Homo sapiens: one gene and its partners. The protein of the gene in region 3 interacts with the protein of the main gene of each other region in a pairwise test. Each region holds a gene or a part of one and is shown on either strand. Other genes may lie near its edges.

Evidence for each region.
Region 1: the proteins of NFE2 (region 3) and PHYHIP interact in a two-hybrid assay, tested with the Homo sapiens proteins (one large-scale study listed by IntAct).
Region 2: the proteins of NFE2 (region 3) and GLE1 interact in binary tests that used the Homo sapiens proteins (3 or more experiments, as listed by UniProt).

Annotation. Positions count from the first base shown.
Region 1 is NC_000008.11:22,219,181-22,222,227, forward strand, and holds the end of PHYHIP (phytanoyl-CoA hydroxylase-interacting protein), read right to left. Parts: intron 2,708-3,047; coding exon 2,173-2,707; 3' UTR 523-2,172; downstream 1-522. UniProt on the Homo sapiens protein: Its interaction with PHYH suggests a role in the development of the central system.
Region 2 is NC_000009.12:128,539,080-128,542,729, reverse strand, and holds the end of GLE1 (mRNA export factor GLE1), read right to left. Parts: intron 3,115-3,650; coding exon 3,032-3,114; coding exon of another isoform or gene 3,016-3,031; exon of another isoform or gene 2,853-3,015; intron 2,456-2,852; coding exon 2,392-2,455; intron 1,629-2,391; coding exon 1,560-1,628; 3' UTR 442-1,559; downstream 1-441. UniProt on the Homo sapiens protein: Required for the export of mRNAs containing poly(A) tails from the nucleus into the cytoplasm. May be involved in the terminal step of the mRNA transport through the nuclear pore complex (NPC).
Region 3 is NC_000012.12:54,298,913-54,302,662, forward strand, and holds the start of NFE2 (transcription factor NF-E2 45 kDa subunit), read right to left. Parts: upstream 2,104-3,750; 5' UTR 1,889-2,103; intron 1,365-1,888; exon of another isoform or gene 1,235-1,364; intron 1-1,234. UniProt on the Homo sapiens protein: Component of the NF-E2 complex essential for regulating erythroid and megakaryocytic maturation and differentiation. Binds to the hypersensitive site 2 (HS2) of the beta-globin control region (LCR).

The DNA of each region.
Region 1 (3,047 bases), on a different chromosome or scaffold from region 3:
GGCTGGTCTTGAACCCCTGACCTCCACTGATCCACCTGCCTCAGCCTCCCAAAATGCTGGGATTACAGGCGTGAGCCACCTCACCCAGCTCTAGGTGGAAATTCTAACCCCAAGGTGATAGTTTTAGGAAGCAGGGCCTTGGAAGGCGATGAGGTCATGAGGGTGGGGCCACATGAATGGGATTAGTGCCTTTATGAAAGGGGCCCAAGATGGCCCAGAGCAGTGGCTCATGCCTGTAATCCCAAGCACCTTGGGAGGCCAAGCAGGTGGGAGGATCACTTGAGGCCAGGAGTTTGAGGCCAGCCTGGGCAACAAGGTGAAATTCCCCATGTCTACAAAAAAAAAAAAGGAGGGGCAAGAGAGCTTGCTAGTCCCTTTCACCCTGTGAGGACACAGTGAAAAGAGCCATCTGTGAAGCAGGCCCTCACCAGACACCGCTTCTGCCAGCACCTTGATCTATGAGAAATGAATCTGCGGTTTCTGAGCCACCCAATGTGTGGTATTTTGTTACAGCAGCTCAAATGGACTGAGACGAGCAGGGCCCTCAGGCCATGGTGGTTTATTGATGCACGTCGCAAGCACAGCACAGGCAGGCGGACCCCAGCCCCGGGGGGACATGAGGGCCAGGGGAGGGCAGTGGGCCACCCCCACAGCAATGCTGTCAGCACAGGGGGAAGGAAAGGGCCTGGGCCATGTTCTCTCCTTCTCCACACCTCTCCCCAAGCCTCCAGGCCTCCTGACTCATCCCAGAGAGACAGCTGGCCACACAACTGCCCCTGGCTACAGATAGGTGACCGTTGTCCACCTGTCCCTCACCGAGGTATGGCCTTGCCGGCCCGCTGCTGCTTCCGTCCTTCATCACGAAAATCCAGCTGCTCATCCATCATCTCTGTCACCTCTGAGAAAGTCACTGTGAGGCTGCACTCTCCTCTGCCTGATGTCACCTCCATCATCCCCCAAACAGCCGGCTGCTGCTGTCAGCCCCTCCCACAGGCTCTCTGTTTGCTTTGTTGATTGTAGGGAGTCCACCCTCGTGACCTGTGTGACAGTAGGAATGAGGCAAAAACACAAGGAGGCCCGGGAAGGACTTCACCAAGAACTCCCCGGGGAGGGGCTCCCGGCCAGCAGGGTGGCAGGAGAGCAGACAGAGCCAGTGGGGAGGGGAGAGGCGGAGCAGCAGAGGGTCCACAGTCCAGGTCACGCATGGGCACAGTACAGTCATGGCACCATGGCAGAGCGAGTGAGCAAAGTGCACAGCTGGGCGGGGTGCCGGGGCCCGCGGGACAGCTTACAGGTCTCACGTTCCATGCCAGGCCCCAGCAGAGCATGAGGCGGCCCACTCCCAGCTGAGGAAGGGGCACCTCTGGGTCTCAGGGGTCTCCTCCCCCTCCTCAACCCCAGTGGCTGCTGTCTCAGACCCCTGCACTCTAAGCAAGGAGAAGGTATGCTGGGGTATGGAAGGAAGGAACATCCGACAGCCTGACGCCCCCAGTGCCAAGAGAAGAAAGAGAGTTCCTTTCTAGAGAGCAGGGGGAGTGTCCCGGTGGGCAGGTGGAGAAGGAGGGACAGCTCTCCCATGCAGGAAGAGGGTTCTTTGGGGCAAGGAGCAGCCAGGGAGTCACGGTGGTGCAGGAGACTATTTATAGAAGGAAGGGATCCAGGCCTGGAGTGGGAAGCCCCAGAGACCCAGCTCAGCAGGGAGGGGGCATTCTGTGGTTGGCCCTGAGTGGGGTGAGTGGGACTAAGAAAGATCGCCCCACAGCTCTCTGCATCTCTTCTGGAGGCAGCCAAGCTACCCATGGGCTTTGGCCCAGAGGGGCTTCCCTGGGAGAGCCCAGGAGGTGGGCAGGTCTTTGGGAGATAGAGACCTGGACGAGGCAAAGAACAGTAGGACAAGGAAACCAGAGGAAAGGGGAAGTTCTCCAGAAGTCCAGCCCAGCTGCCAACTACAGAGGCTGAGAAGCCTTTCCATGTCCACCAGGCTGGGTGTGGGCCACACTTACCAAGAGGACCACCGTCTGTTGCCTCCAATGCCAAGGGGCGAGGGGAGGGCAGCTGGGCAGAGTGGAGGGAGCAGGGGGGCAGGAGAGAGAAAGCCAGCTCCCTGAACCTGGGCTACCCACCTCCACCTTCCGCTCATCTCTCCCTCGCCCCCCAGCTCCCCAGGAGTCCCTAGCGGCCCACGCTGATGTTGCAGGTCTTGCAGCTGGGGTCCTTCTTGGCATCGGCAGTAGACAGACTCATGAGCTGGTGCCCACTGATCTCCCCCAGGGTGCCCAGGGACAGGTCGACGGGCTCAGTGTAGATGATCTCCAGGATGAGGTCCTGGGCGTGGCGGAAGACCAGCTCCCCATCCTCCACGCTGCAGGTCAGGAACTTGTTGCAAGCAATGTCCAGGAGGGGCAGGCGGTCGCGGCAGAAGCGGTCCCCCAGGGAGCCTTTGGGCGCCAGCACCAGGATGGCGTAGTGGTAGGCCGTGTACATGCAGTAGAAGTCCGCAAAGTAGAGGTTGGTGCTGGGATTGAAGAGGCGCTGAGCTGGGATCTGGAAGCGCCAGCGGCCGTAGGGGGAGTCCTGCGGGGGCTGGCCCGTGTTGAACTCCGTGTTGCAGCTGAAGAAGACCCCGTGGAGCATACCGCTGGTGGGGGAGCCGTGGCTGCCACTGTTGTCCTTCAGGTAAGGCTGCAGCATGTTCCCGCAGTGGGTCCTGCCCACCCCAGGGAGACACACCAAAGGGAAGAGAAGATGTGGCTGGTGAGCCGGGCTGAGGCTTGGCTGCTGCGTGTGGTCGAGGAGGGAGGAAGCCAGCCCAGCTCCCAGCCCTCCCCCAGCCGCCTCCACTAGTCGCAAATAGAACATTCCAGAATGCAAGAGCAGGGAGGGCCCTGGAGAGGGATTCAACCAGCCCACTCCTTCTCAGAGAAGAGATATGAAGCTGTCACTCCCCAGCTTGAAACCCTTTGATGGGGTGTGTGTGAAAAACACGGCGGCTCATGATCTGATCTCTGTGGTCTCCTTGCCACTCCCCACCTCCTGCCACCCCATCC
Region 2 (3,650 bases), on a different chromosome or scaffold from region 3:
AGTGGAGACAGGGTTTTGCCATGTTGGCCAGGCTGGTAAGACGTGAGCCACCGCGCCTGGCCAAAAAAATTTGTTTTAGACATGGGGGTCTCACTATGTTGCCCAGGCTGGTCTTGAACTCCTGGACTTAAACAATCCTCCCACCTCAGCCTCCCAAAGTGTTGGGACTGCAGGCATGAGCCACTAAGCACGGCCTATTGTGTCTTTCAAAGATTTTAATACACTTTCACATCTCTTGCTAGATAAAATAGGGTCAGTTATTAGTACATAATTCCAAAAAAGGAAATGACAGAAAAAGAAGTAATATTCCCAAGGTGTAGGTCAAGAAGACCAAAAGGAATAAATGCATACCGCTCTATACCTGGACTTGTATACTATCATGATTTACATAGCTCAAGGCAGAGGAAATTGATCATATTGAACCAATATATCAGCAATGGGTTTTTCAAAAAACCAAGCTTTATTATTAATTTTTTTTGGCACCTTAATTAACAATTCATAGAATGGGTCACTTCAGGCCACTCAAGAGTACCAGTGAACACTCCCCCACAAACACACCCTGCCACAAGACATTTAGCACAGAGGAACAGATCCATGGCCACTGCCTCTGCAGTATCAAAGAGAATTAGTCTTTCCACAAAACAAATTTTAACAGCCAATCTCTGGATTTCTGTAGTGGCTTTAGTCAGGCATATTTATCATCATATTAGCAGTGTTCAGTTCCTGCCCAACATCTTTATTTAATCCCAATTCAATGCTTATGGATGCTCAGCTCATGTTTAATGTTGCAAGCCCCATCTTAGCCCATCTTAATTCAAACAGAAAAGAAACAAAACAAAACAAAAACAAAAAAGGTACCTGCCTGGTTCATGGATCCCTAGCCATCCAGGGACCAAATTCCAAATTAGGATGACAAAGAGTTTCCCTTAGTTCAAAATGACATGTGTTTCCAGTCCTAATCCCAGATGTTAATCTAGCCATAGTGTCACCTGAGCCTTAGTCCATGTGTATATCACATACTTCCTCTAGCTTTAGAATGACTTCACAAGCTGAGAAAGGCAAAACAACCATAACCCAGACTTGCATGTAAGTATCTGGCCTCAACTATTAAATAATACTTAAAAGGGAACCTTATGAGCCTTAGCTCTTTCTGGAAATTCATCTGAACAGGGGTGAGGGTGGGTAGGTGGGTGCAAATGGTGGGCTCCCTCCAGCTCAGAGTGCATTTGTTAAGGTATTGCCAACTTTCTGAAAGACACTAGAGACAAGGGAGGAGACCAAGTGCTAAAGACCTTTTATCACTTTTGCAAAAAACAAGAAAGGCCAACTCCATTTATTTTATCACGTGGATCTCTTAAGGAACTACCAAATCTACTAAGGGACCTCCAAGAATTTTGTGACCCATGAAAATCTCCTCTCCTAGTCACAAGGCATAAATACATAAAAATACATAATGGCAAATTTCTGAATCTGACATGACTTCTCCCAAATACAGCTGTCTTCAGTTCCTTTATTATTGCCTCTTTGCAGCAGCGGTGATGGTGGGTGATGGAGTGACATCAGGAGCGCCAGAAGGAGGAAGTCAGAAAGCCCTTGGGGACAGGAATGTCCTTGTGTTGCAAACATTTCTGGTCAGGGAAAGATGAAGAAAACAGAATGAGTTTCTGATAACAGTGTTCCCAACACTTAATGGTTAAAAGAAGCTTTGAGGAACACCATATTTCAGCCCTATGGAACAGTGAACAAAAAGGAAAAAGCCAGTAAGACTGATGGTTCTGTATAAGATGTCCACTTCTGCATGATCTGCTCCAGACAACAAATGAAATGCTCTTATTATTCCTGTCCCACTCTTGTCTCCCTACAGGCTAACCTCATCTTTCACAATCACTATTTTCACAATCGAGCTTTGAGAAGCTGAAAAGTCAGCAGGCTATCTTGGCAAACCCACTATAGTGTTCTAAATTCTTTGTCAAAATTAACCTTTTACAATCTCTTGGCACTTGGAAGTAGGGGAAGAGTCCAACTGAAAGTGCAGTTTGATCTCATGGAGAAAAGTGATGACACTTACCAATTCCCCAGACCTGAGACTAAGAAAATAACCTTGGCCAACATGCAAAAAAAATATATATTAATGAGAGGAGATACACTAAATATATTTTACTCATCTCAGCATAGCTTTCTCACAGGCAGTATAGAGAATGATACATATAAAGAAGAGGAAATGGCAGCCCTTACTCCAAAGGTTAAGAGGGAATTAGGAACAAAAAGAAGGGTTTGGAAGAACTAAGGAAGAGAGTGCAATCAGAGCATCGGAAGGTCCAAGACTTGTCAGACATAGGTGCATTCCAGCCCAACAACAGTGTGGGGCATGTTGGTCTAAGGGCATCTTACCTCCAAGAACTGCTTGAGGCGTATGAAGGAGCCCATCTGTCCTGAGCTTGTGATAGCTTCAATTCTACAGGGAGAGAAAGACACATGAATCACACCTATGATATACACCTATCTTTTGGAAACGGTGTCTCACTCTGTCACCTAGGCTGGAGTGCAGCGCGGTGGTGCGATCATAGCTCACCGAGGCCTTGAACTCTTGGGCTCAAGCGATCCTCCTGTCTCAGCTTCCCTAGTAGCTGGGACTATAGATGCATGCCATCATGCCTGGCTAATTTTTTTTTTGTAGAGATGGGGTCTTGCTATATTGCCCAGGCTGGTTTTGAACACCTGGGCTCAAGTGATCCTCCTCCTGTGGCCTCCCAAAGAGCTGCAATTATAGGCATAATTATAGGCATAAGCCACTGTGCTCAGCCCCTAATTTGTGTTTTTGTTTGGGCAATGATATTTAAGACAGACTCTCATTAAGGTTCAAAAGCATTTATTCAAATATCAACGAGAGGGACTGGAGTAGGAAAGATGTCATACTTAGTACAGGTGTTTTTAACTTGAATCAAAACCAGCAGGTAATAGCACCCTTGGGTATCTGAGGCCTGGTTATGAGTTACTTAATCCCCTGCTGTCTGCTCAACAAGCCTGATACCTGGGAAAGTAGTCCTCTTTGATGAGAATTAGCATCTTCCAGAACTGAACCTGGTATTGCTTCATGAGGGCATTCCCACACACCTAGAGGGAAAGACAGGCACTGTCAGAGCAGAAAATGAAAATTCACACTCACAGGACAGATTCATAAAGCACAATCAGCCCTTCATCTTTCACACCTATCAAAAATTTCAACCACAATGCCACTGAACTTGCTAACAAGGGAATAAATGGAAACACCCAACTTTCTTCTAAAGCATTTCTCTTTATATGGCAATATCTCCATTTAACCAATCAGGTCTTAATGAACTACTCTTCTTTTCCTCTAATGAATGGACGCCTTCCTAAAGGTATGGTATACCTCCCAAACTTAGTAAGGAGAGTATACAGAATACCACTTGTGTTCTCAAATGATACAGGATCATTGTTCATGTATGGTGACTTCAGGAGCTTTTTATTTTTTTTTGAAATAGGGTCTCACTCTGTCGCCCAGGCTAGAGGACACTGGCATGATCACAGCTCACTGTAGCCTCAACCTCCCTGGGCTCAGGTGATCCTCCAACCTCAGCCTCCTCAGTAACTGGGACCACAGGCACACACCACTAATTTTTGTATTTTTT
Region 3 (3,750 bases):
TGGTGGCGCACACCTGTAATCCCAGCTACTCAGGCGGTTGAGGCATGAGAATTGCTTGAACCTGGGCGGTAGAGGTTACGGTGAGCTGAGATCATGCCACTACACTCCAGCCTGGGCAACAGAGTAAGACTCTGTCTCAAAAAAAAAAAAAAAGAAGGGGAGCAAGGGGAGGCAGGAGTTTGGGGGAGAGAGAGTTGAGGAGAACCTCTGGATCCATTCCAACCAGCTCTTGGGTGCAGTAGCAAGTTTGTACCAGGTGGCAGGTGGAGCAGGATGCTTTTCCCTAGACGCTCAAGGATGGATGGTGTTCTATACACCAGGCATAGGGTCCCTCTGGGTTTCCAGAGCCTACCTTTCAGAGGACAGCAGAGCTGGCAGGCAGTGGGATAGATCAGGGAGATAGATAGAATTGGATCAAATAGAACACCATAGAGGGTATAGAAACTGGGGAGATACTGGGAAAGTGAAGTGGGCTTCCCTGTGTTCCCTTTCTTTTACAATAAGAAGCTCCCACTTTACAGTTTAGCTTTTGCATTTTGGGGTCACACCACCATCTTACTCCCACTGGGTTGTCTGTTCCTTCTCTTACTCCCCAACATTATGGATTAGGTAGAAATGGGGTTGTCACCAGGGACTAAAGTCCATCCTCCTTACTCTTAGCCTGGTGGTCCTACCCAGAAAGATTTTTATCATAATCCCTAAGTACTCACAGAATGATACGGAGCTTCATGATTAGGAATACAGAGTGAGGACTATTCGGAGAGGGATGATGGAGAGAGGAATACATTTGGCCTTAGCTGCTGCCCCAGGGCTCTTAACTTCCTTAACGAGGGGGAACGATGAGAGGGGGCTTGCCTCAGGATCCCTTTTCTGAGGCTTATTTGACCACCTCACCTCTCCAGGTGTCAATAGGTGCAGTGAAAGGATGAGGAGGGATTAGTAAAACTTGGGGTATTGGTTAACCGGTAAGCAACCTATTTAGAAAGATTAGGGAGAACTCCCGAAGAGAGAGAGACACACAGAGATGAGACAGAATGAAGGGGAAAAAAAGGAGGGAGAGAGATTTAAGCATAGTGAGCTCAGTGCCCTAGGGACATGCATGACTCAAACAAATGTGTGAGAACAAAGAAGAGGGGGACGAGTTTCTGCTATTGTGTCACTTCATCCCTGGACCCCAAACTCCAGTCCTTTGGTACCGATGTCTAGGGGATCCCAGCCCCAGCAGTTCTGATACCTCCTCTCTTCTCTTCCACTGCTTCCCAAGCCCCTATTTCCCAAGCAGCCAAGAGTTCCAGTTAGAAGCAACTATGCTGGGGTTGGGATGTCTTCCTTCTCCCTCCAGGTCCAGCTGATCTCTACTGCCCCTGGGCACAGAGAAGAGAAAGGGCAAAGGAGCCAACAACCCAGAGGCAATCTCCCATCCAACCCCCGCACCTTGCAACACTTCTCAGAGGTTCAGATATCCAGTGTTTCCAATTCCTCAGCTTTCCCTAAACCTTCTCAGCTGCCTAGACAGGGCAGAGTAATGGAATGGAGTTGGGGAAAGGGTAGTCTATTGGTTCCCTCAGGGTAGCCCACCAGTTGAAGGATTCCTCCTGGCTACTCCCCAGCCCCTCAGCGGTGCCTTGCCTCTGGAGACCCCTCTCTGATCCCCATTCACAGCCTCCACCCCAAGGATCCCAGAGCACCCAAGAAACCACTTAGGTCTTCTCCTAGAGGAGTTCCCAAATATGTCAGATTCCTAAACCAGGGGCAATCTAGAAAGTCTGAGGTCTCCTAGGATACCGAAAGTTGGTTATTTTCCCCCCTCACCTCCTTCACCCCCCAGCCTGCCCCTCGGATCTCACTGGAATCCGCCCCCCCCACACACACCCTGCCTTTCAGGCACCTGTGGTGGAGTCACAGCAGGGTGAGGAGAGAGATGAGGCTCCCGGTGTTGTCTCTGGGGAGGCTGAGCCTGAGCTGACACTGCTGGACGAGGATCCCGGCTACCTTTGAGAATCTGCGAGGACCGCGCCCCGCCCCCGGGCCATTGCTGAGCGCTGAGTGTGGAAGCTCAGGCTGAGCTGAGCACAGGAGCCCCAAGCAGGCGCACCAGCGTCTGAAGCCCTCGGCCTGAGTTCTCAGTCCTTCCTCCAACCCTCCCCTTTCCCCGTGGCTCTCCTCTCCTCCTGCCCCTTTCGGCCAAGAGAGGAAACTTGAGCCCGATGTGGTTTCTGCCCACACCCCGCCCCCACCTTGCTCCTGGCCAGCGGGGGCACACATGGCTCCAAGCCTCTCCCAGCCCTCCTTTTCAGCCCAGGAGTCCAGCCAGGTCTGCGTTTCTCCCATGCATTTGACGAATTCCAACCTGATGGTCCACTCGAATGTGACCTTTAAACTTTATACAGGTTGTCGTCGCCTTGTGTCCCCACGGCTCTCCTAGGGACAGGGAAACTGAGTCATATCAAGGTGGAAGGCAGCTGAAGGTAAGGACCAGGTGTCTAGCTTCCCAGCTGTCTAGGCAGTTGGACGTTTAGGGTATAGCCTTCATTTACAGAAAACCTGGGCTCTGGGAACAAGGGCAGGGGAACTATTTGGAGGAGGAGGGGCAACTGACTGCTTTGATGTGTCCTTTCACCTGTAGCCTTCTCCCCTCCCCCCTCAGCCTCAGAAGTCCCAGGACAAAGGATTCTTTCTTGGCCAGGTTTTTGTCAGTGTGTGAAGGGAGTTAGGTGGGGGGCCACCCAGCAGGGAGATTATTCACCTCCCGTAAAGGGGACCCCAGGTGTCCTTTGTCCTCCTTTCTCCCAGGCAAAGCACCCCAGCCACATGGCACCCAACTCTGTTAGGCCAGTAAGTACCCTTATTCATCTTTTTTTTTTTTTTTTTCCAGAGAGGGGCTCACTCTGTCTCCCAGGCTGGAGTGCAGTGGTGTGAACATGTTTCACTACAGTCTCAAACTCCCAGGCTTAAGCAATCCTCCCACCTCAGCCTCCCAAGTAGCTGGTTCTATGGGTCAGTGCAACCATGCCCAGCTAATTTTTTTTTTTTTTTTTTTTTTTGGTAGAAGTGGTGTCTCACTATATTGCCTTGGCTGGTATTGAATTCTTGGGCTCAAGCAATCCTCCCCTCTTGGCCTCCCAAAGTGCTGGGATTACAGGCATGAGCCACCTCACCCAGCCCACTTATTCATCTTTTTGCCTGCAAGCTACACCACCAAAGCCCCAGGTCAAACATCTTTCTCCACAGACTGTGAGAAAAGAGCCTTTCTTCCTCCTAATTTGTAATGGCTTTCAGCTCTATATGTCTAGCTTCAATCCTGACATCTGCAGCTTACATTTTTTCTTCTTACAATGTTCAAGTTAAATTAGAAACATCTGAAGACTGGGGAAGCAGATAGGTGCCACTCTGGAGTAGGACTGGCATTCAACCAGCATGCTCTGATGGGATTGTATTTGCTGTTAAAATAATGAAAATGTTCAGTCCTAGTTGATAAAAGGCAGCTGCTGTGAGCCCTCTAAGTGTCCCCCACGACTCCACCAATAGCCTAGTTCTCCTCTAAGATCCCCAACAACCCAGCAACACAACCATGGAAGTAAAGAGGCAATGCTGGTACCATAAGGAGCCTCCTGTGCTGCCTGCTTCTGCTGGAATTGGCCAATGCCCATGCCAAACCTATGGTTAAATGCTTTGAATTCCATCCCTTTTCCAGTAGATCATGACTGCACATGCATGATCAAGGTAAGACAGGAGGCAATCCAATGCCTT